7 linked regions of the Homo sapiens genome follow. The protein of the gene in region 7 purifies or fractionates together with the protein of the main gene of each other region. This does not show direct contact. Each region holds a gene or a part of one and is shown on either strand. Other genes may lie near its edges. The genes, in order: RPA2, GAN, PPP2R3A, CREB3L2, PTPN21, P3H1 and AJUBA.

Region 1 (4,274 bases), on a different chromosome or scaffold from region 7:
TGTGGAGTATCCTATTATATAGAAATGTGTACTTTATGTTGGATATTTAGGTTGTTTTAAAATTTTTAATATTCTATACTATGATAAATCTAAATCTTAATGCATGTTCTTAATTACTTCCTTAAATTCCTAAAAGTAGAATTGCTTTGCCAATAAGTATATCCACCAGAAAATTGTGTGCCTGCCGGGCGTGGTGGCGGGCGCCTGTAATCCCAGCTACTGGGGAAGTTGAGGCAGGAGAATTACTCAAACCCTCCCTTGGGAGGCGGAGGTTGCAGCGAGCCAAGATCGTGCCACTGCACTCCAGCCTGGGTGACAGAGCGAGACTCCCTCTCAAAAAAAGAAAAAAGAAAATTGTGTGCCTAAGAGCTTGAACGAGAGTGTCACAATTGTTTGCTTTTTTATGATGTGCTACAGAACTTTGGAACTGATAATTACCTTTAGAGATATTTTTATTCTAATTCCTGGTTTTACAAAATAAGTTGTAAAAGGCAGGGCAAACTACTTAATGCCATTTTAGGATCCTTTAACTCTTCTACTTCGTAACTTTCTCTTTCTATACATAATATAGAAACGTTAAAGAGGCTTTTACCAGCATCACTAAAACTTTAATGACATGTTTGTATTTTATGTTAGGACACCAGCAGTGAAAACACTGTGGTTCCTCCAGAAACATATGTGAAAGTGGCAGGCCACCTGAGATCTTTTCAGGTAAAGTCAGAATAAAATAACAGTTAAAGTGTTTTTGCATGAAGCAGTTTCTAGATTCATGTCATGGCTTTTGGATAGTTAAAATACTTAAGTCTCCCTGTTTAATGGGAAGTTATTTCTTACTCTCTTCAAAAGGAAATAACTTTTCTTTTTTTTTTTTTTAACCTTAACATGAAATTAACAGAATGGTAAAGAAAGAACAGAATCTCCTTCTACAATTGCTATCTGTGGCGTTCATTAGTTGGAGAAAGGAGAACACTAGATTCGGAGTCAGGAGTCTAGATTTTGCTTGGTTATGCAATCTTGGGAAAATTATTAATGTCCCTTAGCTATTAGTTTTAGTTTTTTTTCTCCTCATGTTTGACCATATTTGGAATACCTCTGAGAGTATATAACATTTTTCTCATATTGGTGAAATATTAATATTATAACCAAGGAAAGAGCCACAGTGTTGACCTGAAATTAATGTATGTTCATATTTTATTCACATTTTTTTCCTTCATTTTAATAGAACAAAAAGAGCCTGGTAGCCTTTAAGATCATGCCCCTGGAGGATATGAATGAGTTCACCACACATATTCTGGAAGTGATCAATGCACACATGGTACTAAGCAAAGCCAACAGCCAGGTGAGTAGTCTCGCTTTCCTAGCTTTTTCTCTTCCCTGGAAGAACACAGGCTACTTTTGTGTTCCAGCTTTGATTTCCTTGATATTTTGAAGGCCGAGCCAGAGAAAGACATCACTAAGTCCTCAGAACACTTTCTCCATTAGCTTTGTCATTGTATTTTATTCCAGATGAAACACTCATGTTTCTCTCAGAATTAGGAGTTCCTCTGACTCCACTGGCCTGGACAGCTGAGGCCTGTGACAACCCTCAGGTGTAGACATGTAATTATAGGCTCTTAGCTCTTATATAGCTCTTAGCTCCAGGATTGTCAGTGCATACTCAGAGAGTAGTCCCCTTCAGGACAGCATTTTGCTGTCTTCCTTCCAACTTACTGGCTAAGTAGGAAAAATTATGTATTATTATTTTTTCCCTGAAATTATATTTCTTGGTTCATATTGAAATTTCTCCCTAGTATTTTCCATTGTGTGAATTCACTTTGACAAGTCCATCTAGGACCATGCAAAACTAGAGTTGACTGTAGTATTAGAAAGCCCTCAGGGCAAGGTGTGGTGGTTCATGGCCTGAAATCTCAGCACTTTGGGAGGCTGGTGTGGGGGCATCACTTGAGCCCAGTTCAAGACACCACGCTGGGCAACATAGGGAGACCCTGTCTCTACAAAAAAAATTAAAGAATTAGATGGGCTACTTGGAAGGCTGAGGTTGGGAGATCACTTAAGCCCAGGAGGTCAAGGCTGCATTGAGCTGTGATCGTGCCACTCACTGCAGCCTGGGCAACAGAGCAACCTTGTCTCAAAAAAAAATAAAGAAAAAGAAAAATATTTATTGCGCCTACTTTGATTTGATAGTCCCAATCATTCTAGTCGGCATTCGAGTATAGCAGTGAACACTATATACTTACATTCTTGGGAGAAACAAGTAATAAACAAAAATATATGTATAATTTTAGGTAGTTATATAGGTGCTCTGAAGTAAATAAAACAGGAGAAGAGGCTGATGGAGGGAACAAGAATGGTACAATTTTAGATGAGGAACATTCTAAACCAGAGGGACTAGGATGTGCAAGAGCCAGGAGTGTGGAGTAAGCATGACATCTCTGAAACCAGCAAGGCCAGTGTCTGGAGTGAAGTGAATGACAGGGGAGAGGGAGAGGGTTGTAGGCAAGGAGGCAGGGCCCAGATTATATGGGGCTTTGGAGGCCATGGTAAGGATTACCTTTACTCAAATTTTTAAAATTTTGTTTATTTGGGTTTTTTGTTTTTGTTTTTGTTTTTTTTGAGACAGAGTCTCGCTCTTTCGCCCAGGCTGGAGTGCAGTGGTGCGATCTCGGCTCACTGCAAGCTCCGCCTCCCGGGTTCACGCCATTCTCCTGCCTCAGCCTCCCGAGTAGCTGGGACCACAGGCGCCCACCACCACACCCGGCTGCCACCACACCCGGCTAATTTTTTGTATTTTTAGTAGAGAAGGGGTTTCACCGTGTTAGCCAGGATGATCTCGATCTCCTGACCTCGTGATCTGCCCGTCTCAGCCTCCTTTCAAAGTGCTGGGATTACAGGCATGAGCCACCACGCTTGGCCCTTTTTTTCGAGACAGTGTCTCACTCTGTCACTCAGGCTGGAGTGCAATGGCGTGATCTCGGCTCACTGCAGCCTCCGCCTCTCGGGTTCAAGCAATTCTCCTGCCTCAGCCTCGCCAGTATCTGGGATTACAGGTACGCACCACCATACCCAGCTAATTTTTGTATTTTTAATACAGGCGGGGTTTCACCATGTTGGCATCCGGTTAGCAGTCCGGCTGGCAATGAGGATTTGTGGCCTAGGAGGCGGTCTGGGATGAGATCCTGGGGACACTGTCAGCTTTTTGGGAGACAGATAGAAGAGGCTAATGAGGGATACTGAGAAGGTTCAGTTTGAGAGGCAGATGGAGAACCAGAAGAATGTGGTGTCAAGAAGCCCAGGGAGGAATACATTTCAAGAGGAGTGTGGTCAGCAGTGTCTGCTTCCGAGAGGTCAAGTATTAGGAGGACTGAAAGAGACTTTTGGATAATTGGTTGAAAAGTCTTTGGTGACTTTGGTGAAAACAGTTTCAGAGGTGTACTGGGGGACAACCCAAATATGGTGGGCTGAGGAGTGACTGGGGAGAAAGGAAATGAAAATAGTGATTGCAGAGCATTTTAAGAATTTGGTGGTTAAAAAAAAAGAAAGAAAGAGAGGACGATAGGGACTGTGTCTCCTTTTCTCTGCCTGTGGTGCTTCATGCCTATTGACACTCAGTGAATGCTTGAATGATTGGGCTCCATGGATACCAAAATAGCAGACTCTGGGTAATTTTCTTCTTGCTGCTACTCTTCTCTGGTTCGTCTGACATCACAAACAAAAGGAGCCAAGAGTATCTTTCTCTTTTTGATATTTATGTGCTTCGGGGAGTTACTTTATCTTCCTGTGAAATACTCATTAGATAATAGCTGTCCACTCCAATGTAAGCAGTGTTATAAACTGGGAAACTGTTTATAAATTGTTTTTTGTAAGCTGCTTAACGAGCTATTTTAAGTAGTAAAGACTGTTTAACTTGATGGATTTTCTAATATTGCTAACTTATTTCTTAATTCAGCCCTCAGCAGGGAGAGCACCTATCAGCAATCCAGGAATGAGTGAAGCAGGGAACTTTGGTGGGAATAGCTTCATGCCAGCAAATGGCCTCACTGTGGCCCAAAACCAGGTAACCTCCACCAGAGTGGCTTCAGAAATACAAAACACAGATAGTCTTAAATTTTGTTACTTCCTTAATGAGCTACGACTGTTTAAGTACCTGGTTCATTTCTTTTCTATAAAGGGACTCAGGTTTGCAAAGGGGAGGCTGATCCAAAATAATTGCTAAAATCTTTCTGATTTGAATCTTCAGGTGTTGAATTTGATTAAGGCTTGTCCAAGACCTGAAG
Region 2 (4,498 bases), on a different chromosome or scaffold from region 7:
TTTTTTGTCATTCAATTTTTCTTCTCTACCAGTTTGGGACTTACATTCTTGTTAATAGTCCTTTAGGAAGATTACCTTAGAAATTACAGCCTGTATTAAGTTAGCAAAGTCCAAAGTTAGTCAGTACCTGTGTTCTCTTCAGGAGAGTTTTTCTTCATTTTCCATTTTCCATACTCTTACAGTTTTAAAATGCATTATCACTAATAAATATGTACAGTAGATCCCCCTTATCAATGAGGGATGCATTCCAAGACCCCCGAGTGGTTGTCTGAGACCACAGATAGTGCTGAACCCTGTACATACTGTGTGTTTTTACTATACATCCATACCCATGATAAAGTTTAAGTTCAGCACAGTAAAAGATTAACGACAATAACTGATAATAAAACGACGATAACAATATACTGTAATAGTTATGTGAATGTGGTCTCTCTCAAAATATCTTACTTTACTGAACTCACCTATTTTCGGACTGCAGTTGACCATGGGTGATAAAACCACAGAAACCAAAACTTCAGATAAGGGGTAGCTACTATATACACAATATGTCTTTTTTTGATATATGTTGGATGGATGGATGGATGGATGGATGGATGGATGGATGGATGGATGGATGGATAGATGGATGGACAGACAGATAGGTAGATAGATGATTGATAGACAGGCAGGTAGGTAGGTAGATAGTGTTCATTTAGATTTGCCACTTTCTTCGTTCTTCCTTCTTAACTCCTCAGACTTTCCACCTAGGATCATCTCCCTTCTCTCTGAAGTTCATCCTTTTGAATTTCCTTTAATATGGGTCTTTTGGTGGACAACTCTCAGATTTGATTGCCTGCAAATGTCATTATTTTGTCTTCATTCGTAAAGGATATTTTTGCTGAGTATAGCATTTCAGCTTTGGTATTTATCATTTTTCAGCACATTGAAGTCATTCCACTGACTTCTGCCTTCCATTGTTGTGAAGTCAGTGGCAAGTCTAAAAAATCTCTTCTCTGGTGTGTATTTAAAATTTTCTTATTATTTTCCATCTTTTTGTCTCACTGTGCTGTTTTCTTGATTATTATCTTTTGATTTATCTTCTTTTCTCCTTAACTCTGATTAATCTGCTATTACATTTATCCATTGATTTTTTTTTTTTAATTTCTACAAATTCTTGTCTTTTTACAGGAGAATAACTTAATCCACCATTACCTTCAAATCCTCTCTTATTTCTATAGTTCCCTGTTACCTGGAGTTATCTTCCAGTTAATTTTTATTTTTTAAACATGATAAGCATTTGTTTAAATTATCTTTGTTTTTTAAATAAATTTTAGACTTTATTCTTCATCACCCAACTTGAAAAAAATCATCTTTCTGGTTACTATAATATTTGAAATCTTTGCAAGACTACTTCCTATGATCTGCTTCTGCTGGTCTTTTCTTAGAGTCTAATTTTTGGTATGTCTGATATCTGTGGCTGCATGCTGCTCATTTATTAAACATTATTTGTAGCAGCCGGGCGCAGTGGCTCACACCTATAATCCCAGCACTTTTGGAGGCTGAGGCGGGTGGATCATTTGAGGTCAGGAGTTTGAAATCAACTGGCCAACATGGTGAAACCCCATCTCTACTAAAAGTACAAAAAGTAGCTGGGTATGTGGTGGCATGTGCCTGTAATCCCAGATATTCAGGAGGGCGATGCAGGAGAATCGCTTGAACCCAGGAGGCAGAAGTTGCAGTGATCTGTGATTGCACCACTGCCCTCCAGCCTGGGCGACAGAGCAAGACTGTCTTTAAAAAACAAAAAAAATCAAAAAAAAATTATTTGTAGCAATAACTTTCTGCCTTAGATGTCCTGGGATGTTAGAATCTAAGGCTTAGATTAAGGTCCTTCTACAGAAGTTTTGCATTTGTTTCTGCCAGTTGACTGAAAACACTACTAATTTGGTATTAACTGTAAGTTAAGTTCAAGGCTCATGATTTCCCAGATAGCAAGGAGATTTAAATCTGAGTACGAATTCTGGTTGGCCTTCATCCTGACAGTGTAGAACTTTGGAGAGGATCTCCTGCCAGAAGCCACGTTTTCTGTGGACCTGGAGCTTAAACTTCTGTCTTTTTCATCCCCAGGACAAAAGGTTTAAATTTTCCTAGATTAGAAATGCCCTCAGTGTAAAATGGTTTTCATGCTTGATAACCTCTGTAGGTCCTAATTTTCCCTTCAGTTTTGCCTTGTTATCTTGTTGGCTTCTCCTCTTCTAAGAAGATTATTATTGTTGTTATTTTTGAAACAAGATCTCACTTCGTTGCCCAGGCTGGAGTACAATGGCATGATCACAGCCCACTTCAGCTTCACACTCCTGGGCTCAAGCGATCCTCCCATTTCAGCCTCCTGAGTAGTTGAGACTATAGACAAATACCACAATGCCCGGCTAATTTCATTATTTTTTGTAGAGATGAAGTCTTGCTGTGTTGCCTCCTATGAACCTCCTGGGCTCAAGCAGTCCTTGTAGCTTGGCTTCCAAAAGTGCTGAGCCACCACCACCCGGCTAAGATTATTTTTTAAATGTTTTATCCAGCAAATTGTTTTTTGCAGAAGAATAACCTAATACGCCATTACATGAAATCGGAAGTTCAGTTGCTCTTAGATCCTGTTTTGAATAGAAAGTGCACACGGATGCCTCAGATCTGGGTATTCCTGGGGTCTAGAATGAACAGATGTGCGCTGCGGTGCAAAAGTTGTATGAGAATCCCAGAGGCTGAGAGGGAACAGAAGAGATGAATTGAGATGGCCCAGAGTTGCCTGGTGACTGAGCGGGTGACGCCAGGCTTCCTTTTTCATTGTAGGGTGGTGGAAATCCCCTCAAAGACAGTAATGAGTAAAGCAAAATGGTCAAAGTGATGGTTTGGCTCCATCACCAAGGATCCAATGGGATGTGATAAAAGCCCTGAATCCAAAGAGAACATTGTTGTCATCAGAGAGTTTCTTCAGATGCTGTTTCTATATATGCTGTGGCGTTTATGGGTGTTGAAGACTCACATTTCATATTTGTGTTTCCTTTGATCTTTGCAGAAGGATTTTTGTTTGTATTCGGGGGCCAAGATGAAAATAAGCAGACTCTTAGCTCAGGAGAAAAGTATGATCCAGATGCAAATACATGGACAGCATTGCCACCTATGAACGAGGTAAAACACTAGTTGGTTGGTTTGTTTGATGTGTTTCTCTTTCCCCTTAGCGCTTCTGTTTGTTTTGTGTCTGAGTTCAGGGAAGAAACGGCAGCCTTGTCAAGCCACCTGCCTCATTCGCTCCAACCTCTCCTTCTAGTGCCCGGCTCTCCTCCCCTTCCTGGCCCTCACTCCTTCTGGCCTCCATGAGTTTCTGAAATCTTCCAGGAATGCCCTCACCCCAGCCTTCACATTTATCCTGCCCTGTGCAGATGCCAGCGTGGCCTGCCCCCTCCTCGCAGCACCTTCTCAGCGGGCCTCCCTCCTGCCTCTTAGCTTTCCTGTCCCCGTCTTCGTACGACGTCTCACCATCTCACGGACCAGGCATTTAAAGTTTTTCACATAAGCTCTTTGATGGCAGAGAATTACATGTGTTCTGGTCAGTATTTCATTTTCAGCACTAGAATCGTGCTTGGCACGTAGGGTTTACTACATAAATATTCATTGACAAACGGACATGAAACACCTAGGGCTTCTATGATCCCAAATAGCCTTGGCCTGACCCTGTCCTCCACAGCCCTTTCTGCCATAGTTTATACTAGCCTTTCCCACGTCAACTTGAAAACACTGCCCTTTGTTATGCAAAAATAATTGTATTGAACCAGAGGTAACAGTTCATTTTCTTGTTGTGAGCTATTATGGGTTAAAAAGTGAGGATTTTCTGATGAACTCACCATGTATTTCTTAAGTTTGTTTTGAGAAGTGGCTTTGGCCTCTCTGGCTGTTGTGCTGGAAGAGTGGGCTGTTAGGGAAGCCAGAAATCTTTAAGAAGCATTACCGGAGAAATGGTTTTGAACGTGGTACTTCCATGCTGGAACACTGGGAAAAAAGATTTCTCTAATTTTTAAAAATAGTTTCAACTTTTATTTTAGACTCGGGGATACATGTGCAGGTTTGTTATGTGTGTATATTGCATAATGCTGAGGTTTGCAGTAAGATTAATCCAGTCTCCCAGGTACCAAGCGTCGTACCCAATAGTTAGTGTTTCAGCCCTTGCTCCTCTCCCTGTCTCCTTGCTCTAGGAGTCCCCATTGTCTATTTTTGCCATCTTTATGTTTCTCTAATTTTTATTAAGTGTATGAATATCAGCTTTCAATATGATCATTGGCCTTGTGTGTTCAGGGATCGCTAATGTAATTTCAGGCAAGACATAACTTCGGAATTGTGGAGATAGATGGGATGCTGTACATTTTGGGAGGAGAGGATGGTGAAAAGGAGCTGATTTCCATGGAGTGTTACGATATTTATTCTAAAACCTGGACAAAGCAACCTGATTTGACCATGGTCAGAAAGGTGA
Region 3 (4,498 bases), on a different chromosome or scaffold from region 7:
TTTAACAGATTTCTGAAGGCCTGTTTTGCCAACTGGACACTAGATTAGGTATGGAAATAGATTAGTAAAAACAACTTTGCATGCCTGGACCTTATAGTCTAAGGAGGGTGACAGATGTATACATGCATAAATATACATTTATCTCATTACGATTGTGTTAATTTCTGGGAGAAGTACAGGCAGCTCTGAGTGCATAAAACAGATGTCCTGATGTAGTTTGGAAACTGGGGAAAGTTTCCATGGGGAAGTGACCTTTGAGGTGGACGGTGAAGGATTAACAGGAGTTACTAGGTGAAGCTCACGGGAACAATATTCCGGGCAGAAGGAACAGATGTGAATACCTTGAGGAAGAAAGGAACAGGGCCGCTTTTGGGAACCCAGAAGCCAGGAACACGGAGAGTGATGACACAAAATGAAGCTAGGAAAATAGGCAAAGGCTGTCCACTAAGCAGTGGTTCTCAGTCCAACACTCTCATCAGAACCACCAGAACTTAAGACCGACGCCTGGGCCCTCCTCCAAGCAAATCAGAGCATTTTTGGTGGGTTCTGCTCCCTCCCCCAGCTACCATTTTCCCTGTCTTCCAAAGGAATAACCACTGATACTAGTTTTGTATATCATTGTAGACATTTTTTGTGGGCATTCAAGGAAATGCATATCTTTCCTCTTACTGTTTTACACAAATGGTAGCATACTGTACACTCTGTTTTCTTAAAAATGTCTTGGGAATCTTTCCACTTCAGTATATAGTTTCCTTATTTTTTTGAATGACTGTACAGTATTTCACTGTATGGATATACCATAGATTATTTAACCATTCCCCCACTGACAGACATTTAGATTGTTTCCAGTAATTTACCGTAAACAGTGCTACGAATATGCTGTTTCATATGTGAATAAATATATTTATAGGGTAAATTCCTAGAAATGGAATTGTTGGGTGAAATAAACACACAAACACATATATTTACATAAGTATATATTTATGTAATGCGTGTATATGTGTATATATTTGTAATTATTTGTGATTATAAAATATTCTGGTCATATTAGAATGCTTTGGAAGGAAACAAGATTGAGTGTGGGAGACAGCTGCCCCTAATTAAGGTTACTGTGGATAACATAGGAGAGAAAAGGTGGTGGCTGAGAGAAAAGAATGGTCGTATTGGAGATGGAGAGAAGTACATATATTCATGAGATATATTTAGGAGGCGTAATTGATAGGATTTGGTGGTTGATATGGTACAAGGGTTGAGAGGGAGAAATGAGATCCTAAGATGACTCCCAGGGTTCTAGCTTGCCCAACCAGTGAATGGTGGTGGTGTTACCTGAAGTAAAGAACATTTAAGGATAAATAGTTTTGAGATGAGTTTAAATCACAGTTTACATTGGGACTGCTGAGATTTTCAAGTGAGAGGTCACATAAGCATTTGACAATTCTAATTCAGAGCCAAGAGCAGAGGGCTAAACTGGAGGCACGAATTTTTAGGTGTAAATTAAAGGCTGTGGATGAAATTATCTAGGGCAGTGGTTGCAAAGCAGTAGCCTACAGCTGAATCTGACTCACAGATGTTTTGCCCATACAGTGGTTTTGTTATTGTTTAATTTTGAATTAGTTGCCAATATTTTAAAATCTGAAGATTTCTCATGAAAAATCCAGATTTGGGGTTTCTCTTTAAAAATGAGAAAATGTAGCACTACTGAGTTGGTTTTCCAATATGGCAGCAATAATTGGAGCTAAGTCACAGATGATCGCAGCTCTTCTATTTCACTACAGAGCCCACCACTCCCTAAAATTATGCCTGGCCCACTTTGCTCATTTATTTCTCTGACTGTAGGCTTTTGAGCATGTGATCCCTGGTCTGGGAAGAGAGCATAGAACAGTGTTCTCATCTTGGTTGCACATTGGAATCACTGAATGATTAAAAAATGCTAATGCTGTGGTCCACCTAAGAAATTTCTTTTTCTGTTTACTTGATCTGATTTGCTGCCTTGGACGAATCTGAGGTGATTCCACTTAGCTGTGGAAGTTGAGAACCACTGACAGAGATTAAGAAAAAAGGGCTCAGGCCCAGCATTTTGAAGTTTAGTAGAGGAGGATAGCCCAGGAAGAGAATGAGAAGTGGCCACAGAGGTACAGTGGAATGACGCCTTGCTCAGAATTAAAGTGTGCAAACTTAACTGAATGCGCTCTACCATGTTTTTTATTAAATGAGAGAGAGAAAAGTTTTATTTACTTGTATACAGGTGTGCGATATTTAACGGGCCATTTAAAGGATTTTCAAGAGTAATTTAAACAATATTTGGTTTTTGTCTTAGCTGTTTCCTTCACAATCTAATTCTAGTTTAAGATGCATCATAAAAGGTGAGAGAAGAATGTTTCAAATAGAGAGGTGTCATCAAGTAAAGATGTGGAACAAAAATGATCTGTTGAATTTAGCAAGATGGAGTCTTTGACCTCAGCAAGAACCATTTTAGATTGGAAGAGGCAGAAACCAAAATGAAGTGGGTAAAAAGTAAGGAAATGGGAGTGGCAAGTGTTGGAAATTCCTTTGAGAAGCTTGCCCAAAAAGAGGAAGTGGTGAGGGAGGATGAGGTGTCTTACATGCCTACAATGTAGGTGTTAGTCTGTTGGTTACTCAAACATTTCTCCTAACTTTTTAGGGATGTAGGTCAATGGTGTCTGATTACCCCTCTCCCACGTTCTTAGGGGTCTTGTTTTGGAGACTACTTTTTACTGAGAAGAAATTTTGCCAGGACTGTTGAAGGGGCTGACTCAGATGTTGGTGATTAGGCCACAAGTTTCTTTCTCAACTGGAAAGCTGTAGAGCTCCTAAAGGCCAGTGGTGATCTGGGCTCCAGTGACCCTGACATCATCCTCCCATTGAGCTGATGAACAAAGACTATATTGTTGGTATGCTGAAAATGGAATACTTGGCTATGTTAGGGAATGTGTATCTAACTGTGAGATTCCCAGGAATAGTTTTTGCAGCTGTATTTTTTCCAATTAACTTGATATTATAGCTTAATTTTCCAGTTGCATGCATGTAAAAACTCTCATACTTTGAAGTATTTATCATTGATGGTACCTGAGGGATATGGATGTAAGTTGGAGATGTAGGCCCTCATTGAGCTCAGAAAGAAGAAAGCACTGAGCAAACTGGTTTCCAAAAAGTTGTGTGAAGGCTTCTACCTCGAAGACTTGGTGTTAGAGTGACTATTTAGGATGGGTTGTAATGCAAATGGTCACAACCAGTTTGTCTTTTATCCATTTCTGCCACATTGGCAACCTTAACCTAGCAGAGAGGCTTTTAAGGTCAATTTTGTGCTTCATATTTCTAAGAGTTGTAGCCTGCCAACAGAACAGAAAATATAAGGGGTGGAAAATGCCAAGAATTATTGGTTAAGAATGGTTTTGATTAATTGAAGGCATAAACCTCATTGCTATACTCTTGAAAACAGGAATATCATCTTGTGAGGGACCAGACTTCATAGCTGTCATTGGTTTATCAGTTAGGTGGATGATGGTTAACTTCTGTATAAAGGATGACTTTGTGACATGAAAGCAGACCTTGGTCCAAGATGGTTTGTAATGTGAGTCCATTATAAGAAAATATCTTATTTAGAAACTTGTGTATGCTTGGACAGCTGTGGGAATTCCATCATCACAAATATGGTTAGGTACTATGCCTGGCTGGCAGTATATAGAGGCAAAAGTCCATTACCAAGGTGGTCCAGAGCTCCTTTGGTTTGTGGAGGAAACAGGATAGCTGAGTGGGGAGAGGACTTGGAGTCAGTTCCTGAGTATAGTTCCTGGATTTGTCAAGGGTGAACTGTGTGATTTTTTTTAATTGAGGTAAAATTAACCATTTTAAAGTGTACAAATCAGTTACTTCAGTATGTACATTCACAATGTTGTGCAGCCATCACCGCTAATTCTGGAACATTTTCATCACCCCAAAAGGAAACCCTGTACCCATTAAGCAGTCACTCGCCATTCCCCTTTACCCCTACCGTCTGGCACCCGCCAATTTGCTTTCTGTCTATATGGATTTGCCTGTTCTGAAGATTTCATATAAATGGAATCATACAATATGTAACCTTTTGTGCCTGGCTTCTTTCATTCAGCACAATGTATACGAGGTTCACTCAGGTTGTAGCATGTATCAGTACTTCATTCTTTCTTTGGCTGAATAATACTCCATTGTATGGATATACTACGTTTTGTTTATCAGTTGACATTTAGATTGTTTACACCTTTTGGCTCTTATAAATAGTATTGCTAAGAGCATTCTTCTACAAGTTTTTGTTTAAATACCTGTTTTCAATTCTTTTGTGCATGTATCTAGGAATAGAATTGCTGGATTATGAAATAATTCTATGTTTAAAAAGTTTTTGAGGAACTCCCAGACTGTTTTCCACAGATGCTGCACACTTTTACATTTTTTCCAGCAATTTTTGAGAATTCTAGTTTCTCCACCTCCTCGCCAGCACTTTTGT
Region 4 (3,802 bases), on a different chromosome or scaffold from region 7:
ATAGTGGCAGACAGTGTCTTCTGAATGTAAGTTTTGAGAAATACGAGTCTGTCAGAGCGGCCATAAGCCATAAAGAGTCAATCTCTTAATTATATTTTTCATCATGTAAACAAGTTTCCCATTTCCCTTTCTTAGATTGCACCAGTGAAGGAGATGTTTTGCAAAGATTCAGAGAACTAATTTTTCACTGGATAAGACCTGAGTAACCCAGACCCCCCACCGTGGTTCTTTTCACAGCCCTCGACTTTGCACTTAAAAAGGGATATTGTAAATGAAAGGCTGCAGTGCCAGTTTTAAGAAAGAATTTCTGTGAAGTGTGAGGACTCTGGAGTCTAGCTCACATAAAGAGAGTGTTATATAAAAATCCGACAGCTGAACTAGGTTGCTCTTTTTTGGCAGGGAGTGGGGATGAGATTTGACACCAATATGGGCAAAATTAGATAACCTTTTGGTTAATATAAATGATTTTGATTTGGAGGCCTAATTTGTAGATTGTGAAAGCAGCTTTTAGTTTAACTTATTCACAGACCCCTTATAATTACCATGTTTTTTTTTTTCTTCCTAAATCTCTTGGTTCAGCTTGTGAATCTTACGTGCCCGTAAAGTTGGGATGTTGAATTGGCTCTTCTTTGTTCTGGCAGTGAGTCAAGTGTCCAGCATTTTTTCATAAGTGTTTTTTAAAATTGTTCTCCAGCATTTTATGGCTCCTCCCTCCCATGTCCTCAGACCCAGCAAAAGCGTAGAGGCAGAATTAGAGGCCTCTCCAGGCCAGCTCCTCTGCCCACATGTCATACAAGGTGTGAATTTGAGCACAGTCCAGAAATGGAGACATCCCACCCCCAGTTGAATAATGGCCCATTCATGCCAACCTTGCCAACACGGAGAGGGCAGAGATGCACTAGAAGACCTTCATCCTCCCCTTCCTCTGCCCCAAGTCACTACAGTTGGTTCTATTGAAGCCAGTCTTTAAGAAACCTGGGTTAAAGACACCAGCACTTCTGCTTGCTGGGCTGGCTGGACCTGTGAAGCCATGGGCAGGTAGTGCCCTCTTGAGAGTCATTTTATTTGGCCACCTTCAGGTGAGACTATCCATAGACACATGCTAGGATAGGCCCCGCTGGGAGGGCAGTTACAGGAGAGAGTAGGTGGTGGTGACGTGAGGGCTGTGAAGGATCCAGAGACAAGACTTAGATGTTTCGTTCATTCACTCACTCATTCAGTTACTCCTAAGACTTTTCAGTTTCATAAGGAAGAGTGTTGCCTGAGGCCCTAGGGAATATTGGGGAATAGAAGGGATTGAGGAAACATTAATAATAGTTATTCAAAAGACCCAAATGCTTATACTTCTCTCTCCCTTCTTCTCTCTCTGACACACACACACACACACACACACACACACACACACACGTGCACATTCCTCCCTTACATGCTCATTTGTGCCTTAAATGTGCCTTATAGGTAAATCCAGGATGACTGAGGAATCCCTCGTCACTGGGAGATTTTGTATATATTCTTTTATTATTAGATTGAGTTGGGTGTGGGGAAAAATTTTTTTCTGAAGGCTCAAAAGTGGTTTCCTAAAAGTGAGCCACTATCAGATTTGCACATCAGGAGAAAAGAAATAGGGTTACGTCCATTAGGAAAATCCCAGTTTGCAGGAGTGCAATCACATCAAAAAAACAACCAGCCAGGATTAAAGGTATTATAAATCCTCATAGCGGAACATTTCTCAGGGCAAAGGAACCTGGCTCATTTGAAGATTAATGTTCCATGCCTTTGTGGTCAAAGGGTCAGCACTTAACACAGGAAAAAACTAGGTGTTGTTTTGTTTTGTTATTTTGGACAACATAAAATTCAGGAATGTTTTATTTAGCCTTGGTTTCTAGAAGGAAGGGAAATAATATTTCTTGAGCATTTACTAGGGTGTTGCGTGCTGTGCTAAGTAAATTTTAAGTCTTTCAGTTTTATAGATACGGAAAACAAGGGTGACTCTTTACCACAGGATGAATAAAGAACTAAGTAATATGGGAAATGCAGCAATTTCTGGACTAGCTGAGCCGATTCCTTCCTGTGAGCACACTGTAAGCTTTCAAGTTCTCTGGGCAGGAATTACAGCACCTGTCCCCTGCAATGGCCCTGCTGTGTGATGCTCATCGCTTCCCTTCGTGCTGGAGCAGTCCCCCAGGTGTCCATCTCCTATCTTTTTGTTCCAATCTTCTGTGAGTTCCAGCTAGCAGGCTTTACATCTGGGGAAAGGAAAACCAGGGGTTTTAGCTCTGTTCTCTGCTCCCATCCTTCGCTCACCAGCTGAGTGAGAACATGAACTTTTTGCACCATGTACCCATGGCTTACACTACTTAGAAAATCACCTTTTCAGATAAAACAGTTTATGAGTTCATAGAGAACACCAGCACTCTTTGACAAAACTGTGAGTGACCCTTTTTAAACAATGCTGAGCAGGCCCTGAGCTATAATCAACGGTGAGCTTTAATGTCTATGCTGACAGTTAGGTTTTGCTCTCTTTTGTAACAGGTTACGTAGACCAGCAGTGTTTAAATCTAAATACGTTGTGAGTCTGTTATCTGTCCTATCGCGTTTTTTAAATGACTTTTTATTCTTTATCATAGCTAAGTAAATACCAAAAAAAAAAAAAAGCTTTGTAGGACACTTGTACTTAGTTTGGGAAAAAAAAATAAATTGAAATTGTTATGCTTTTGTATTTCCATTTCTTGCAAATAAATATTTTTTCTTAAATAGTAAGATGTTGCCCAGTCTTTATAATCTTGGTACTAATTTGAAAAGCATGTTGTTTTTTTATGAACATGGGTTTGTGTATGTGTGCCGAACCGTTCTTTCCTGGATATCTACTTGGCCTGAAAGAAGAGCCTCAAACCAGCAATTGGTATGTTATATAGGACTGAATCCAAGCCTTAGTTGGAGGAATATTGAGAATGTAATTGTTTTTTCAGGCAGCCACGGGAAGAAAAACAGTATCCTCTAGAGACTTATGCAGCATGACTGTTATTTTTATTGTCTCCTCTAACTATTCCCTAACTAGATTTCAACTGTCTGTGGATTTGATTTTGCTTTCCCCATCTCTGGTTGCTTGAGAAAGATCCTTTGGACTTGAGCCAGAAAGGAATGATCCTTCTTCCTACGAACAGTTGCAGAGGATGTCTAACAGATTCATGCTCCAGAAATTCTGATGAAATGGTTGATAAAGGTCAGTGCACTCAAGCAGAGTAATCTTCGTTCCATTACAATGTCTGAATCCAAATGTAGCTTTCTTCACTCAGAGAGTGGGGGCTTCGTTTAGTCTCAGACTGACTTGGGATGTGAGAGACTAAGGCCAGGGACTGTGCTTACTTGGAAAAAAAAAACAAAACATGGGATTTTTTTGTTTGTTTGTTTTGTGTTTTTTTTTCCTTAGCAGCATGCTCAACCCTGCCCTGGCCTTGAGGGTACATTAATCTGCTCTATCTTGTCCTCTTCAGAGCACCTTGACCTTTTGTTGTTACACAAGGGGGCCTTTCCCTTCAGAGGCTTTCATTATCATGCCCCACTCTTTCTTTTGTGGGGAGCCTATTTCTGAAGCTCCTCCACCCCCCAATATGCTGATATCTTTTCAGTGGTGTGTGGAGAGGGCAAATACTCACTGATTTGAGAATGTTCTGTATTAATCATGCCTTTCCATTTTCTGAATTCCTAATGCTTTGACATCTAGGGCCTTGCCGACCCTGGAGGGACCACCCGTGCGAGGGCTAGCCCATTCCTAGCTTAGGAGCATGCCTTTCATATACAA
Region 5 (4,498 bases), about 66 Mb from region 7:
CCTCCCGCGATAGGCATGTGCCACCATGTCCGGCTCTTGACTTCGTTCTTTCAACATTCATTGAGTAAAATTCATTGACTATATTCTTACAGGCCAGATCGAGGTTCTAGAAACATACTGCCTGAACTCAGTTTGAGTTCTAGTTTCCTCACCATCTGCTTCTGTTACCTTGGGCAAGTTATGTGATATCTCTGAGCCCCAGTTCTCCATCTGAACCATGGGGATGACTGTGACACCTAATTCTCAGAGTAGCATAAGGTTGTAAGCTCTGCTAACTAGTCTATTAGAGTACCGATTGGGAGGTTTGCCCAGGAAACCCCTAATCTAGTTGGTAGGAAGTTATGGAGTACTCATGTATCCATATAATGTCTTAAATTTAAAATGTTATGCAAGGCCTGTGAAGAAAGGTCTCTAATTAAACCTAGGACCCTCCCTACCTTTGGCTACCTGGTTCTTGGGTAAGGGAAAGTTAGAGAAACTGGTTATTCCACCTAAAAAGTCAGGAATAGATGAACTTTGCTCCTGGTGACCATCCAATCACTTATATGATCACTCAGTACTGAAGATGCGTAAGTGCCAAGCACATACATACTTGGAAGCTCACCCTAGTGTTGTTGCCAGTAAGAAAACAGGCATGATGCATGCTGTGATAAGGGAAGTAGAGGGTGTGCTATAGGCCAGAGGGAGGTGCAGCAAAGGGAAGGCTGCTCAGGGAATTTGATTCTGAGCTGTGACCTGAGGATGGGGCAAGGGAGTCCTATCAAGGGCTGGAGGAGTTCCAACAAAGAGAACTGCACAGGACCAAAGACGCAGAGGAAGCTGGTCTGCCTGAAGCCTGAAGTGCGTGGAGGAAAGGCCGACTGTAAGGGCCACACAATGAGGATTTTTTGTTAAAGGATTTAGATTTATCCTGAGGGTAGTGGGGAAGTTAATGAAGGGTGTAAACAGGTGTGGTACGATTGTTTCTGTGAAGAGTGAGCCCTTTGGAGAATGATTTGAGGGGAGTGGTTCAGGTACAGATGGTAGCCACCTGGAGTTGGATAGGGTTGGAGAGAGGTGGTTGGAATCTGGATCAGGACCTACCGAGTAATAGAGAAGGGTTAGCATGGGTCCTGGTTGATATTCAGGTTTTCAGTAGATGGTGGGGCTATAACAGAGAGGAAATGTGAAAGGAAGTGCAGATCTATTAGGGGCAAGGAGGAGCGTGTGGTGAGTTCAGTTTTAGAAATACTGAGTTTGAGGTGCCAGTTGGAGGTTTTGAATAGACAGATGGATCTGCTGATCTGGAGTTCAGGCATGAGATCCAGGTTAGAGGGAAGATATTGGGAAGTATCAGCCTAAGTGAGTTCATTAAAGCCAGAAGATGGTATGAGGCTCTCCAGGGGAGAAAAAGAGGACATCGCAGACCCCTCATGGTAGATTAGAGGAGGGGAAAGTGTTGGAAGGAAACTGAGATGAAACTGCCGAAGAAGAAGAAAGAAAACCAGAACAGCAGGCCTCAGTAACCAGTCCCTGCTTACTTGCATTTATTCTTTTTTAGGGATGAGGTCTCACTCCATCACCCAGGCTGGAGTACAGTGGCACCGTCATAGCTCAATGCATCCTCAAACACCTAGGCTCAAGTGATCCTTTTGCCTTAGCCTGCCAAGAGCTGGGACTACAGGTACACTCCACCACACCCAGCTAATTTTTTTTTTAACTTGTGTTTTTGAGATGGAGTCTTGCTATGTCGCCCAGGCTGGTCTGGGAGTTGTTTCCTCTAGTTATCTTCCTGCCTCAACTTTGTGAGTAGGTGGGATTACAGGCGTGTGCCACCTTGCCTGGCTTAGTGGCTTATATTCTATTTATTTATTTATTTATTTACTTTGGTTGCTTCGACTTTTTTTTTTTTTTTCCTATTATGGTTTCTTCTTCCTGTAATTTTCTTCCTCGTGCACCAGGTCTGTCTATAACGCCTAGAGAGTCAGCTTCTTGAGGAACTGTGGTTTATTTATTTTTATACCAGGTGTGGAATGTGTTCAGTAAATACAGGGAGAACTGAACCCACAGGCATTGCCTTCCTTCTGTTAATAAGTCCAGAGAAATTGCCATCCCTTGTTAGAAGTTATCAGTCTCAGGGAACAAGTAACTTTATATAGCTGTGGGTATATTTTGAGCCTGATTTTTAACAGAAGAGGAAACAGGCATGGTCCCTAGAAAATGTTTTGCCTGTGGAGAGTCTGTCCCACAATTTCCAACATAAATGTAACAGTCATGGGTAGAAAGTTTGTATAGCAAACTTTTTCTTTGAAAGCCCCAGAAGCTCTGCTCTGTAGCATATAAACAGATGGCTCAGGCATCAGGCCTAATCTTAACAAATGACTGTTCAGAAATAATCTGAGTGGGGTCACACCTGTTTCTAGTTTGTACATATAGTCTCTGTGTGATTCATACCAAGAAATATCAGTATGTTGGTTTCTTGCACTGTTCTCCCACCAAGCAAATCTGGAATTATCGCATATAGATTTGGGTGGAAAACTTTGCTACTGTCCAAATATAAATGGAGGGAAAAGTCCCTCTTGCTTAATTGAATACCATTTCACTTCTATAATGACAATTTTTTTTTTTTTTTTTTTTGAGATGGAGTTTCACTCTTTTGCCCAGGCTGGAGTACAATGGCGCGATCTCGGTTCACTGCAACCTCTGCCTCCCGGGTCCAAGCGATTCTCCTGCCTTAGCCTCCCCAGTAGCTGGGATTACAGGTGCCTACCACCATGCCCGGCTAATTTTTGTATTTTTGTATTTTTTTTTTTTTTAAGTAGAGATGGGGTTTTATCATGTTGGCCAGGCTGGTCTTGAACTCCTGACCTCAGGTGATCTGTCCACCTTGGCCTCCCAAAGTGCTGGGATTACAGGAGTGAGCCAACGTGCCCGGGCCTATAATGACAGTTACAAGGGCCGCACAATAGTATAACACTATACCCAGGGGTTTCAGCTATATCAGTAGTGTTTCTTACACTGGGTATATGGGTATTTTTTTTGTTTGTATTTTTAGCTGTCATATTTTTACAAGTGTCTAAGATATTTTGTATTAAATTAAAAGCAACGTGGTTAATATACATGTATCCAATGTAGTTAACTTAGGTTGCTAACTTTCTTTTAAATTCACCATATTTGAACTACAGAAAGTAACTTCTTTTTTTTTTTTTTTTTTTTTATTTGAGACAGAGTCTCGCTCTATCGCCCAGGCTGGAGTGCAGTGGCGCGATCTCGGCTCACTGCAACCTCCGTCTCCCAGGTTCATGCCATTCTCCTGTCTCAGTCTCCCAGGTTCATGCCATTCTTCTGTCTCAGCCTCCCAAGTAACTGGGACTATAGGCGCATGCCACCACGCCCGGCTAATTTTGTATTTTTAGTAGAGATGGGGTTTCACCGTGTTAGCCAGGATGGTCTCGATCTCCTGACCTCATGATCCGTCTGCCTCGGTCTCCCAAAGTGCTGGGATTACAGGCGTGAGCCAAAGTAACTTTTAAAAATGGGAAAATGAATTATTCCCTTAGGAAAATATTGCTGTTCGTTATAGCAGTAGTTTCTCAAAGCTGTTGAAATTCCCTGCCTATCATTCTTCTGAGTTTCAAAACATTTTTTCAAGAGAGGCTGTGAGTCCTTGTGGAATTTAAGGGGAGCTAGAAAATTTTCTCCAATTTTAAAAGCATATGCTGTAGAGGCTTGAAGGAGGTGGTGACACAAGTGGCCACCTGGGCATGGGCACTGCCTGGGGCATCACCTTGACGGAATCAGCACAATCCAGAGTGCAAGAGTCAGGCTCAAAAATCTCATGTCATGGGAAGACCTGATTTAATCTAGCTCGCTAAAAATGATGTGTAAAACCAGGACCCAAGTTTAGTAATTTATAAGCAGTAAGGAACTGCCAAGGGTCCCAGGTATGTGTGCCCTCTGCCTAGGCCAAGATTTTCCTATAGTTAGGGCACATGGGAACCAGAACAAACCAGAAGTTTCTTGGTGAACATGGAATCAGAAGAATGTTACCTTGAAAAAGTAGATATTTTCATAAGTCGGCCAGGCGCGGTGGCTCACGCGTGTAATCCCAGCACTTTGGGAGGCCGAGGTGGGCAGATCACCTGAGGTCAGGAGTTCAAGACCAGCCTGGCCTGGCCAACATGGTGAAACCCCATCTCTACTAAAAATACAAAAAAATTACCCATGCGTGATGGTGTATGCCTGTAGTCCCAACTACTTGGGAGGCTGAGACAGGAGAATCACTTGAATCCGAGAGACAGAGGTTGCAATGAGCCGAGACTGCGCCACTGTACTCCAGCCTGGGCGACAGAGTGAGACTCTGTCTCAAAAAAAAAGAAAAGAAAAGAAAAAGTACATATTTTTATAAGCAGAGAATTGCTGCCTCCAGGACCAGACAAATTCCTTTGAGTCAGGGCACCTTTTCCTCTGCGCGGTGCTTCAGTGGTGCTTCAGTGCCTGTCTGCCTCTTGAGATGGCT
Region 6 (4,498 bases), on a different chromosome or scaffold from region 7:
CGCTTCCCACCATCCCTGCCCATGAGGGCATCTGAGATATACCCTGCAAAGCCTTTCTTTTTTTTTTTTTTGGAGATGGAGTCTTGCTCTGTTGCCCAGGCTGGAGTGCAGTGGTGCAATCTTGGCTCACTGCAACCTCCACATCCCGGGATCATCAAGGAATTCTCCTGCCTCAGCCTCCCAAGTAGCTGGGATTACAGGCATGTGGCACCATGCCTGGCTAATTTTTTTGTATTTTTAGTAGAGATAGGGTTTCACCATGTTGGCCAGGCTGGTCTCAAACTCCTGACCTTGTGATCCACCCGCCCTGGCCTCCCAAAGTGCTGAGATTATAGGCATAAGCCACTGTGCCCTGCCGTAAAGCCTTTCTTAACCTCCCAGATGATTGGAGTCCCCTCCTTTCTTTTGAACTTCTTAGGGCATTTATGGTCTGTCTTATGCTAGTTATTTGCATAATTGTTAGAGAACAGGTACTGTCTTCTAGGATTCATCTCTCACCCTATCTGGCACAGTTCCTGGTACACACTGAGGCCTCAGTTATCAAGTGGAGTTGAACTGAGTCTCTAGTATTAGTATGTCCCTAGCACAGAGAAACACCATGAGAACTGTAAGAGAGAAATGTTGACCTTTGCCCTATAGTTGCTTAAATTAACAGTGGTTAATTAAACAAGATTAGCGTATGAAAAGAATTTGTCCAGCATTCCTTTGTTTTCAGACCACTTTCACTTTGTTATTTCTCTTGATTCTTATAACTGAGAGGTGAGTCATGCAGATTGCAAGATCCTTATTTTAAATGAATAATGATGATGATACCATGGTAGCCAAACTTTTGAGGACTTACCATATGCCAAATATTGTACTAAGCTTTTAACTTGCCTTCCTTGTTCTTAACATTATACTGGCATCAAACATATAAGGTAGATGCTGTTTGACAGATGAGAACATTTTAATTAATTAAAATTAACCTCAGGGAGGTTAAGTAACTTGCCAAGGTCACACAGCTAATCAATGGAGGATCTAGGAGTCAAAGTCAGTTCTTCCTCGTTCCCGAGCTCATGTTTTAGGATTGTGTTTCTGATGTTTCCTCAAGAGTGTGTCATGGCCCAAAAGCCAGCAGCTATTTGGTCATGGAGCTGGGACTGGGAATCTCATCTTTCAGCTCTATGTTCTGTCCTCTGGACTATTCTACCTTTGAAAATGACCTAGCGGGAGATTTTGCTGGTGAAAAGGAAACAGCTGGAATTTCTATTTGTGACGAGGAGGCAATATCCAATGGAGAGTCTTTGGTCTAGCTGCTGCTAGATTTAGCTAGAGTTTTGTCATTGCTTTGCAGGTGGCCCCCTGCTGTATGAAGGCATCAGTCTCACCATGAACTCCAAACTCCTGAATGGTTCCCAGCGGGTGGTGATGGACGGCGTAATCTCTGACCACGAGTGTCAGGAGCTGCAGAGACTGACCAATGTAAGGGAAGCCCAGTGACTGCACCTTCCCCCAAGGGTCCAGCATCCCCCCACCAAGTGCCCCTTGGGTGGTAGCCTTCGCCTTCCTCTTCCTGGCCACAGTTGACCACCTCTTCTCAAGCCCTCAGCTGCCCTGGCTAACATCACCTTGTGTTTTGGGCCTTGTAGGTGGCAGCAACCTCAGGAGATGGCTACCGGGGTCAGACCTCCCCACATACTCCCAATGAAAAGTTCTATGGTGTCACTGTCTTCAAAGCCCTCAAGGTAAGATCAACACTGGGCATTCTAGAGTGTGGAGAAAGGGGTGGGGAAGGGGGAAGCTCAGGCTTTGAGGAAGAGTTGGGGCTGGTGGCAGGAAAGGTGAAGAGGGTCCACCTGCCAACATTCTTGTTGCCAGGAAGCGAGGATGAGTTATGTTGCGTGAGGTTCACTTTTGAATCCTGTTAGACCGAGTGTAATCAAAACAAAGTGAGCAGGATAAGACTGTTCGCCAAAGCTATGAGAATGCTTTCTTTAGAAAGGCTGATTCTAGAGGGCTGTGCTTCTGTGCAGGATGCACAGTGTGCTCATAAAGAGAGATAAGAAGGACAGGAGGAAGAGGAATATAGTAGGGGTATTGGGCGTGGGCAGCAGAGGCTGCAGCTTCAGTGGGGGTGTGGGGACGTGGGATGGGCCTGGTACTCATTGTCTCTGGCCCCTAAAGAGGGGCGTTGTGTTAGTCCGTTTTCACACTGCTGATAAAGACGTACCCGAGACTGGGCAATTTACAAAAGAAAGAGGTTTACTTGGACTTACAGTTCCATGTGGCTGGGGAAGCCTCACAATCATGGTGGAAGGCAAAGAGGAGCAAGTCACATCTTACATGGATGGCAGCAGGCAAAGAGAGAACTTCTGCAGGCAAACTCCCATTTTTTTATTTTTTATTTTTTATTATTTTATTTATTTATTTATTTATTTATTTATTTTTTTTTTATTGATCATTCTTGGGTGTTTCTCGCAGAGGGGGATTTGGCAGGGTCACAGGACAATAGTGGAGGGAAGGTCAGCAGATAAACAAGTGAACAAAGGTCTCTGGTTTTCCTAGGCAGAGGACCCTGCGGCCTTCCGCAGTGTTTGTGTCCCTGGGTACTTAAGATTAGGGAGTGGTGATGACTCTTAACGAGCATGCTGCCTTCAAGCATCTGTTTAACAAAGCACATCTTGCACCGCCCTTAATCCATTTAACCCTGAGTGGACACAGCACATGTTTCAGAGAGCACAGGGTTGGGGATAAGGTCACAGATCAACAGGATCCCAAGGCAGAAGAATTTTTCTTAGTACAGAACAAAATGAAAAGTCTCCCATGTCTACTTCTATCCACACAGACCCCGCAACCATCCGATTTCTCAATTTTTTCCCCACCCTTCCCGCCTTTCTATTCCACAAAACCGCCATCGTCATCATGGCCCATCCCCAATGAGCCGCTGGGCACACCTCCCAGACGGGGTCGTGGCTGGGCAGAGGGGCTCCTCACTTCCCAGTAGGGGCGGCCGGGCAGAAGCGCCCCTCACCTCCCGGATGGGGCGGCTGGCCGGGCGGGGGGCTGACCCCCCCACCACCCTCCCGGACGGGGCGGCTGGCCAGGCAGAGGGGCTCCTCACTTCCCAGTAGGGGCAGCCGGGCAGAGGCGCCCCTCACCTCCTGGATAGGGCGGCTGGCCGGGCAGGGGGCTGACCCCCCCACCTCCCTCCCGGACGGGGCGGCTGGCCGGGCAGAGGGGTCCTCACTTCCCAGTAGGGGCGGCCGGGCAGAGGCGCCCCTCACCTCCCGGACAGGGCGGCCGGCCGGGCGGGGGGCTGACCCCCCCACCTCCCTCCCGGACGGGGCGGCTGGCCGACCACCCCCCCCGGCCTCCCTCCCGGACGGGGTGGCTGGCCGGGCTGAGGGGCTCCTCACTTCCCAGTAGGGGCGGCCGGGCAGAGGCGCCCCTCACCTCCCGGACGCAAACTCCCATTTTTTTAAAGCCACCAGATCTCGTGAGACTTATTCAGTATTATGAGAACAGCACGGGAAAGATCCACCCCCATTATTCAGTCATCTCCCACCAGGTCCCTTCCACAACACATGGGAATTATGGGAACTACAAGATAAGATTTGGGTAGGGACACAGAGCCAAACCATATCAGTCGTTGAGGGCAGCTGACCATCTGTCTCCTTGGCAGCTGGGGCAAGAAGGCAAAGTTCCTCTGCAGAGTGCCCACCTGTACTACAACGTGACGGAGAAGGTGCGGCGCATCATGGAGTCCTACTTCCGCCTGGATACGCCCCTCTACTTTTCCTACTCTCATCTGGTGTGCCGCACTGCCATCGAAGGTGGGCCTCATTACCCCTGCAGCACCCGCCCCCGCATGCTGTACCTCAGCTCTGTGCTGGATGCTGAAGACACAGAGAGAACAGGATGCGGTCCCTTTTCTTCAGTTGGGGAACCAATGTAAATACATGGGTGGCATCCCAGTGTGATGCATGCCACAGTAGCATGGAGGAAGTTATAGTCAACCTACCTGGGGATCAAGAAGGCTTCCCAGAGGGAAATGGGGTGCAGCCAGAAAGGGGGCCACCCGTCACTTGTCACACAACGCACTTTAATGGGGAAGCTGGTGCTAAACCATTCATAGAGGACCTGCCTCCGGGTTAGGGTTTCATACATAGCTGAGCAGCTCCCTCGCTGCCATCTGTTGAAAGACAGCCCTCAACAGAAGGGCTTGTTAAAAGCAAAAATAATAACAACAACAACAACAACAAAAAGAAGGCTTCCCAGAGGAAGCAATGGCAGTTTTGCAGGATGAATACGATTACGGAGTACTCCGGGTGGTGGGATGGTGTTTGCACAGGAGTGGAGGCATTGTGCAGCCTGGTAGTCAGGGGAACTAAGAAAGGTGCCAAATCCTGGAGAGCTACATTCAAGGGAATTTTTATCCTTTAGCTCAACCATAGCTATGTGGCAGATTCTCTTTTACTAATTGTTAAATACCAAATTTGTGAGAGAGCTTCGTGATTTA
Region 7 (4,498 bases):
TTGGAGTACCACCCATCATTCTCAGTTTGATAACAGCCTCCGTTCGTCTTGTCTTTTACTTTAGTTTTCAGGGTTTCAGGAGGCAGCTGAGAAATGCTGTGTCTGTGGTCACTTGATTTTGGAGAAGGTAAGTAAAGTGCTTTCAGCTGAGAAGTCTCACTGTGAGGCTGAGGAGCGGGATCAGGGACTAAATGGATATTGAGAGAAGGTTGGGGAAAGAAGCCTGTCACCAGATGAATCACTTTCATCCCATTCCTCCCCAGAGCAACTGTTTACAGTGGCTTCCCTCTGCCTATGGGATCAAGTCTGGGCTCAAAAGCCTGTCAACCCAGGCTTCTATGACCTAGCCCCTCCCTAACTCTGCAGGCACAGCCAGGCCTTCCAGCCTGAGCTAGGAGTGTGGGGTCCTGAGTCTTTTTTTTTTTTTTTTTTTTGAGACAGAGTCTCGCTCTGACAAAGTGGAATGATCTCGGCTCACTGCAACCTCCGCCTCCCAGGTTCAAGTGATTCTAGTGCCTCAGCCTCCCAAGTAGCTAGGACTACAGGCATGCGCCACCATGCCTGGCTAATTTTTGTATGTTTAGTAGATAAAAGGTTTTGCCATGTTGGCCAGGCTGGTCTCGAATTCCTGGCCTCAAGTGATCCTCCTGCCTCAGCCTCCCAAAGTGCTAGATTATAGGCGTGAGCCACCATGCCCAGCCTGGGGTCCTGAGTCGTCTTCTTTTTTTTTTTTTTGAGATGGAGTCTCACTCTGTTGCCCAGGCTGGAGTCCAGTGGTGCGATCTCGGCTTACTGCAAGCTCCGCCTCCTGGTTCACGCCATTCTCCTGCCTAGCTGGGACTACAGGCGCCCGCCACATGCCCGGCTAATTTTTTGGTGTGTTTTTAGTAGAGACGGGGTTTCACTGTGTTAGCCAGTATGGTCTCGATCTCCTGACCTTGTGATCCGCCCACCTCGGCCTCCCAAAGTGCTGGGATTACAGGCGTAAGCCGCCGCGCCCGGCCAGTCCTGAGTCTTAATCCCCTTTCTGCTACTGGTTAGAATCACTTGGGACTCAGTTTTCTTTTCTGTAAAAACAAAAGATAGGATTAAATCAGTGATTCTCAATCATGGTAGCCTAGCAGATCAGCTGGGAAGAACTAAAAAACAAAACAAAACAAAAAACAGTGTTTGGATCCCATCACCACAGATTGTGATAATAGGCCTGGAGGAGGGCCAAAGCATTGATGTTTTTTAAAAGCTGCCTAGGTGATCCTGATATGCAGCCAGAGTGAAACACTGCTGGCCTGAATGCTCTCTCAGGCACTTTTCAGGGTCTCCGCCTCCATTTTACGACTTCTTCACCGACATTACATAGCATTGTTCTGGGAGTATAGCAGCGGGTTGGATGAGGTTAATGGGAGTAATAAGGAGCATAATGGGCAGCTGGAGAGCTGGGACTGGAGGGAGACTGATTCTCTTGCTACCCCATGAGCCAGATCCTACAAGCAATGGGGAAGTCCTATCATCCAGGCTGTTTCCGATGCATTGTTTGCAACAAGTGCCTGGATGGCATCCCCTTCACAGTGGACTTCTCCAACCAAGTATACTGTGTCACCGACTACCACAAGTGAGTCTGCCCCTTGGGATGCAGTGTGGAACTGGGTCCAGGGATTCCCCAGCCTCAGCTCATCTCTTCCCTCTCTCTTTCAGAAATTATGCTCCTAAGTGTGCAGCCTGTGGCCAACCCATCCTCCCCTCTGAGGTCAGTATGTCTGGGTTCTCCTTCAGGGCAGCCAGTGCCACTGCCTTTGGGGAGGGGATAGGGACATGCTGCCTGGCCTCCTGCCAGAAGTGGTAGTGCCAAGGAATGTACTCTGTGAAGATTCCCGTGTGACTCTGCCTCTTGGGGTCACCACCCTGACCCTAATATCCGGGCCTGGACATGTCTGAAAGCCTAACTGGGCCCAGGCTCCATCTCTTCTATCCCAGTCCAGAGGAGGAGACTTTCTTTGAGGTCGAGGTCACCAGACTGCAGATGTAGGGGCTGGAAAAAGGTGGGAAGAATCCTCAGCACTGGTAGGAAGGGGTCAGAAATGATTTAAGCTGAGTGTAGGGGATGTGCCTATGGAGAGAAACCAAAAGCCAGTGAGGACCAGATCTTATTGGATCCCCTTGTTCCCAGCCTAGCCTACTTTATTTAGGCCTCCTGTCCCCTTCCCTTCCCTTTGCTTCCTGCACAACTGAGAGACGCAGGTAAGGCCAGGGCTGTTGTACAGAGGGAGTGTGCTCCATGGGTGCAGCCCAGTGAAGGAGATGAGAGTTCTGGTAGGATTTGCAGAAGCATCTTAAAACTACAGGTGATTGCAGAGAGACTCTGGGGGCATTTGTATGATCTTCCCATGGGGTGGGAAGGGTTGTATATGAGGGAAAGGTGGAGGTGAGGCAACATGCTGCTCTCATCTCCATGGGGGTCTGCATGTTTCAGGGCTGTGAGGACATCGTGAGGGTGATATCCATGGACCGGGATTATCACTTTGAGTGCTACCACTGTGAGGTGAGTGTTGGGGTTCAGCGGTGCTGGAGAAGAAGTGGAAATGGGGAGAGGGGAGGAGTCAAGTCCTGCAACAACCAGACATCTATGGGAGAGGTGTAGGGCATGGGAAACCAGAAAGATATTGTGACCTATCTTCAGTCTCTTTTTTGTCCTCCAGCCACTCTCTCTGGTCCAAGTAGCTTAGTCCTTTCTGAATCTGACTCTCCCAGAGTCAGGACTTTCTAAGACTAGGGACTCTGGTCAAACTTCTTGAAAGACAGGCTTGTGTCATTATTTCTGCTGCAGCAGTGACACCTGGTGTCCAGCTGAGGTATTAGTATTTTCTCAGATTGCTCTTCCATCCCTTCCATCCTTCCCTTCCCACCCCATCCCTTTCTTCCAGTTATTAGGAGTCAGGTGTTGAGCAGGGCAGACTCCTAAGATACCCTCAGTGTCCAAGGTGCCTAGGCTGAGGTGAACTAGGTGCCTTCTTCCCTAGGACTGCCGGATGCAGCTGAGTGATGAGGAAGGCTGCTGCTGTTTCCCTCTGGATGGGCACTTGCTCTGCCATGGTTGCCACATGCAGCGGCTCAATGCCCGACAACCCCCTGCCAACTATATCTGAGCTGCAATCACTGCTGCTGCTGTCACCCTGCAGACAAACTGCTGTGGCCAGTGGGCCCCTCTGAGGCCAGCCAAGGCAAAGAATGCACTCTGCAGGCCTGGCAGAAGAGTCCTCTGGGGAGGACCCCAAGGGCCGGAGACCCAAAGATCATGATATTCCAAATGGATTGTGGAAGAGAAACCTTATATTTACCAGGGTGGGGGCGACTGGCCTTTTTCCCATGTGTGCAGTCTGAGCTTAGGCACACACAGGAGGGTTCCAGGACTTTCTGAACATCTGATTCTGTATCTTCAGTATATATATTTTGTTTGTTTTAGAGATGGGATCTCACCATGTTGCCCAGGCTAGTCTTGAACTCCTGGGCTCGAATGATCCTCCCACCTTGGCCTCCCAAAGTGCTGGGATTATAGGCGTAAGCCACTGTGTCTGGCCTAGTGTATGATTATGCATGAGTCACGCAATGTTCTGGTCCTGGATTCCAGGAGTAGAGGACCTAGCTTTAAATCAATTAGTTTCAGCTAAACTGACTAGAACCAAATCAAAGTGTAATTCTCCCTCCAGCTCCCCCAAACCCCAGAGTTTTGGGGTTGTGGTTGATGCAGTGTGGGATGTCCCTGAGAGGTAGCAAGTCTAGGGTGGTGAGTTCCTGCTAGGCAACCAAATTTAAGCTCCTCACTTTTTGTGACACATGGTGTCAGATATGGGGTCCCGCACCTATATCTGGATGAAGAGGTAGAAACTCTGGACCTCATTAATGAGTTATTTCTTGGCCTTCTTCTAAGGACTAGGAGAGCTCCTTATCTGTCTGAGAATGGGGACCAGCTCTGAGTGGGGTTGCTGCCTGTATTCCCTGTTTCTCAGGAACTTACATGGGTCTGGGGAGGCTAGGTAGGTGATTGTACGTGGTTGCTCTTCTCCTTGGCTGGGGGAGGTAATGAGCAGATCTCTGTGGGTGTGGAGCTTGTTGGGGGGATGTCTAGGAAGCTTCAGCTTAGCCACATTCCCAAGTTTAGGTGCACTGAGCCATATAGCCCAGTGTATGCATGTGTGGGTGTGTTCATGCACACACACACTCTCTCTCTTGTCTCTCTGTCTCTCTCTCACTCTTTCTTACTCTCTTCTCAGGTCACTTGTACACTTGGTTTCCTAGTAGAAGCTCACTTGCCACCTCTCAGAGGGGTCCCGGATTGCATCCATCACAATCCCAAAACTAGAGTTGGGGGGAACTGGAGGGAGCAAAACACTGATTTGATACTAGTCAGTTTGCTTGAAACTAGTTCACCTAAAGCTAGATCTCTTAAAACCAATTTACTGAAAACTTGTTTGCTTAAAGTTAATGACTTAATGACTAATTTGCC

The links.
Region 1: the proteins of AJUBA (region 7) and RPA2 purify together in Homo sapiens (affinity purification with western blotting; one study listed by BioGRID). This does not show direct contact.
Region 2: the proteins of AJUBA (region 7) and GAN purify together in Homo sapiens (affinity purification with mass spectrometry; one large-scale study listed by BioGRID and IntAct). This does not show direct contact.
Region 3: the proteins of AJUBA (region 7) and PPP2R3A purify together in Homo sapiens (co-immunoprecipitation; 2 studies listed by BioGRID and IntAct, with this or other methods). This does not show direct contact.
Region 4: the proteins of AJUBA (region 7) and CREB3L2 purify together in Homo sapiens (co-immunoprecipitation; one large-scale study listed by IntAct). This does not show direct contact.
Region 5: the proteins of AJUBA (region 7) and PTPN21 purify together in Homo sapiens (affinity purification with mass spectrometry; 2 studies listed by BioGRID and IntAct, with this or other methods). This does not show direct contact.
Region 6: the proteins of AJUBA (region 7) and P3H1 purify together in Homo sapiens (affinity purification with mass spectrometry; one large-scale study listed by BioGRID and IntAct). This does not show direct contact.

The regions. Positions count from the first base shown.
Region 1 is NC_000001.11:27,894,070-27,898,343, reverse strand, and holds part of RPA2 (replication protein A 32 kDa subunit), read left to right. Parts: intron 1-636; coding exon 637-711; intron 712-1,222; coding exon 1,223-1,339; intron 1,340-3,946; coding exon 3,947-4,054; intron 4,055-4,237; coding exon 4,238-4,274. UniProt on the Homo sapiens protein: As part of the heterotrimeric replication protein A complex (RPA/RP-A), binds and stabilizes single-stranded DNA intermediates that form during DNA replication or upon DNA stress.
Region 2 is NC_000016.10:81,359,450-81,363,947, forward strand, and holds part of GAN (gigaxonin), read left to right. Parts: intron 1-3,049; coding exon 3,050-3,162; intron 3,163-4,344; coding exon 4,345-4,494; intron 4,495-4,498. UniProt on the Homo sapiens protein: Probable cytoskeletal component that directly or indirectly plays an important role in neurofilament architecture.
Region 3 is NC_000003.12:135,968,134-135,972,631, forward strand, and holds part of PPP2R3A (serine/threonine-protein phosphatase 2A regulatory subunit B'' subunit alpha), read left to right. Parts: intron 1-4,498. UniProt on the Homo sapiens protein: The B regulatory subunit might modulate substrate selectivity and catalytic activity, and might also direct the localization of the catalytic enzyme to a particular subcellular compartment.
Region 4 is NC_000007.14:137,873,937-137,877,738, reverse strand, and holds the end of CREB3L2 (cyclic AMP-responsive element-binding protein 3-like protein 2), read left to right. Parts: 3' UTR 1-2,760; downstream 2,761-3,802. UniProt on the Homo sapiens protein: Transcription factor involved in unfolded protein response (UPR).
Region 5 is NC_000014.9:88,544,694-88,549,191, reverse strand, and holds part of PTPN21 (tyrosine-protein phosphatase non-receptor type 21), read left to right. Parts: intron 1-4,498.
Region 6 is NC_000001.11:42,749,500-42,753,997, reverse strand, and holds part of P3H1 (prolyl 3-hydroxylase 1 isoform 1 precursor), read left to right. Parts: intron 1-1,333; coding exon 1,334-1,461; intron 1,462-1,628; coding exon 1,629-1,724; intron 1,725-3,661; coding exon 3,662-3,812; intron 3,813-4,498. UniProt on the Homo sapiens protein: Basement membrane-associated chondroitin sulfate proteoglycan (CSPG). Has prolyl 3-hydroxylase activity catalyzing the post-translational formation of 3-hydroxyproline in -Xaa-Pro-Gly- sequences in collagens, especially types IV and V.
Region 7 is NC_000014.9:22,972,085-22,976,582, reverse strand, and holds part of AJUBA (LIM domain-containing protein ajuba), read left to right. Parts: intron 1-64; coding exon 65-127; intron 128-1,478; coding exon 1,479-1,609; intron 1,610-1,692; coding exon 1,693-1,744; intron 1,745-2,467; coding exon 2,468-2,536; intron 2,537-3,014; coding exon 3,015-3,140; 3' UTR 3,141-4,498.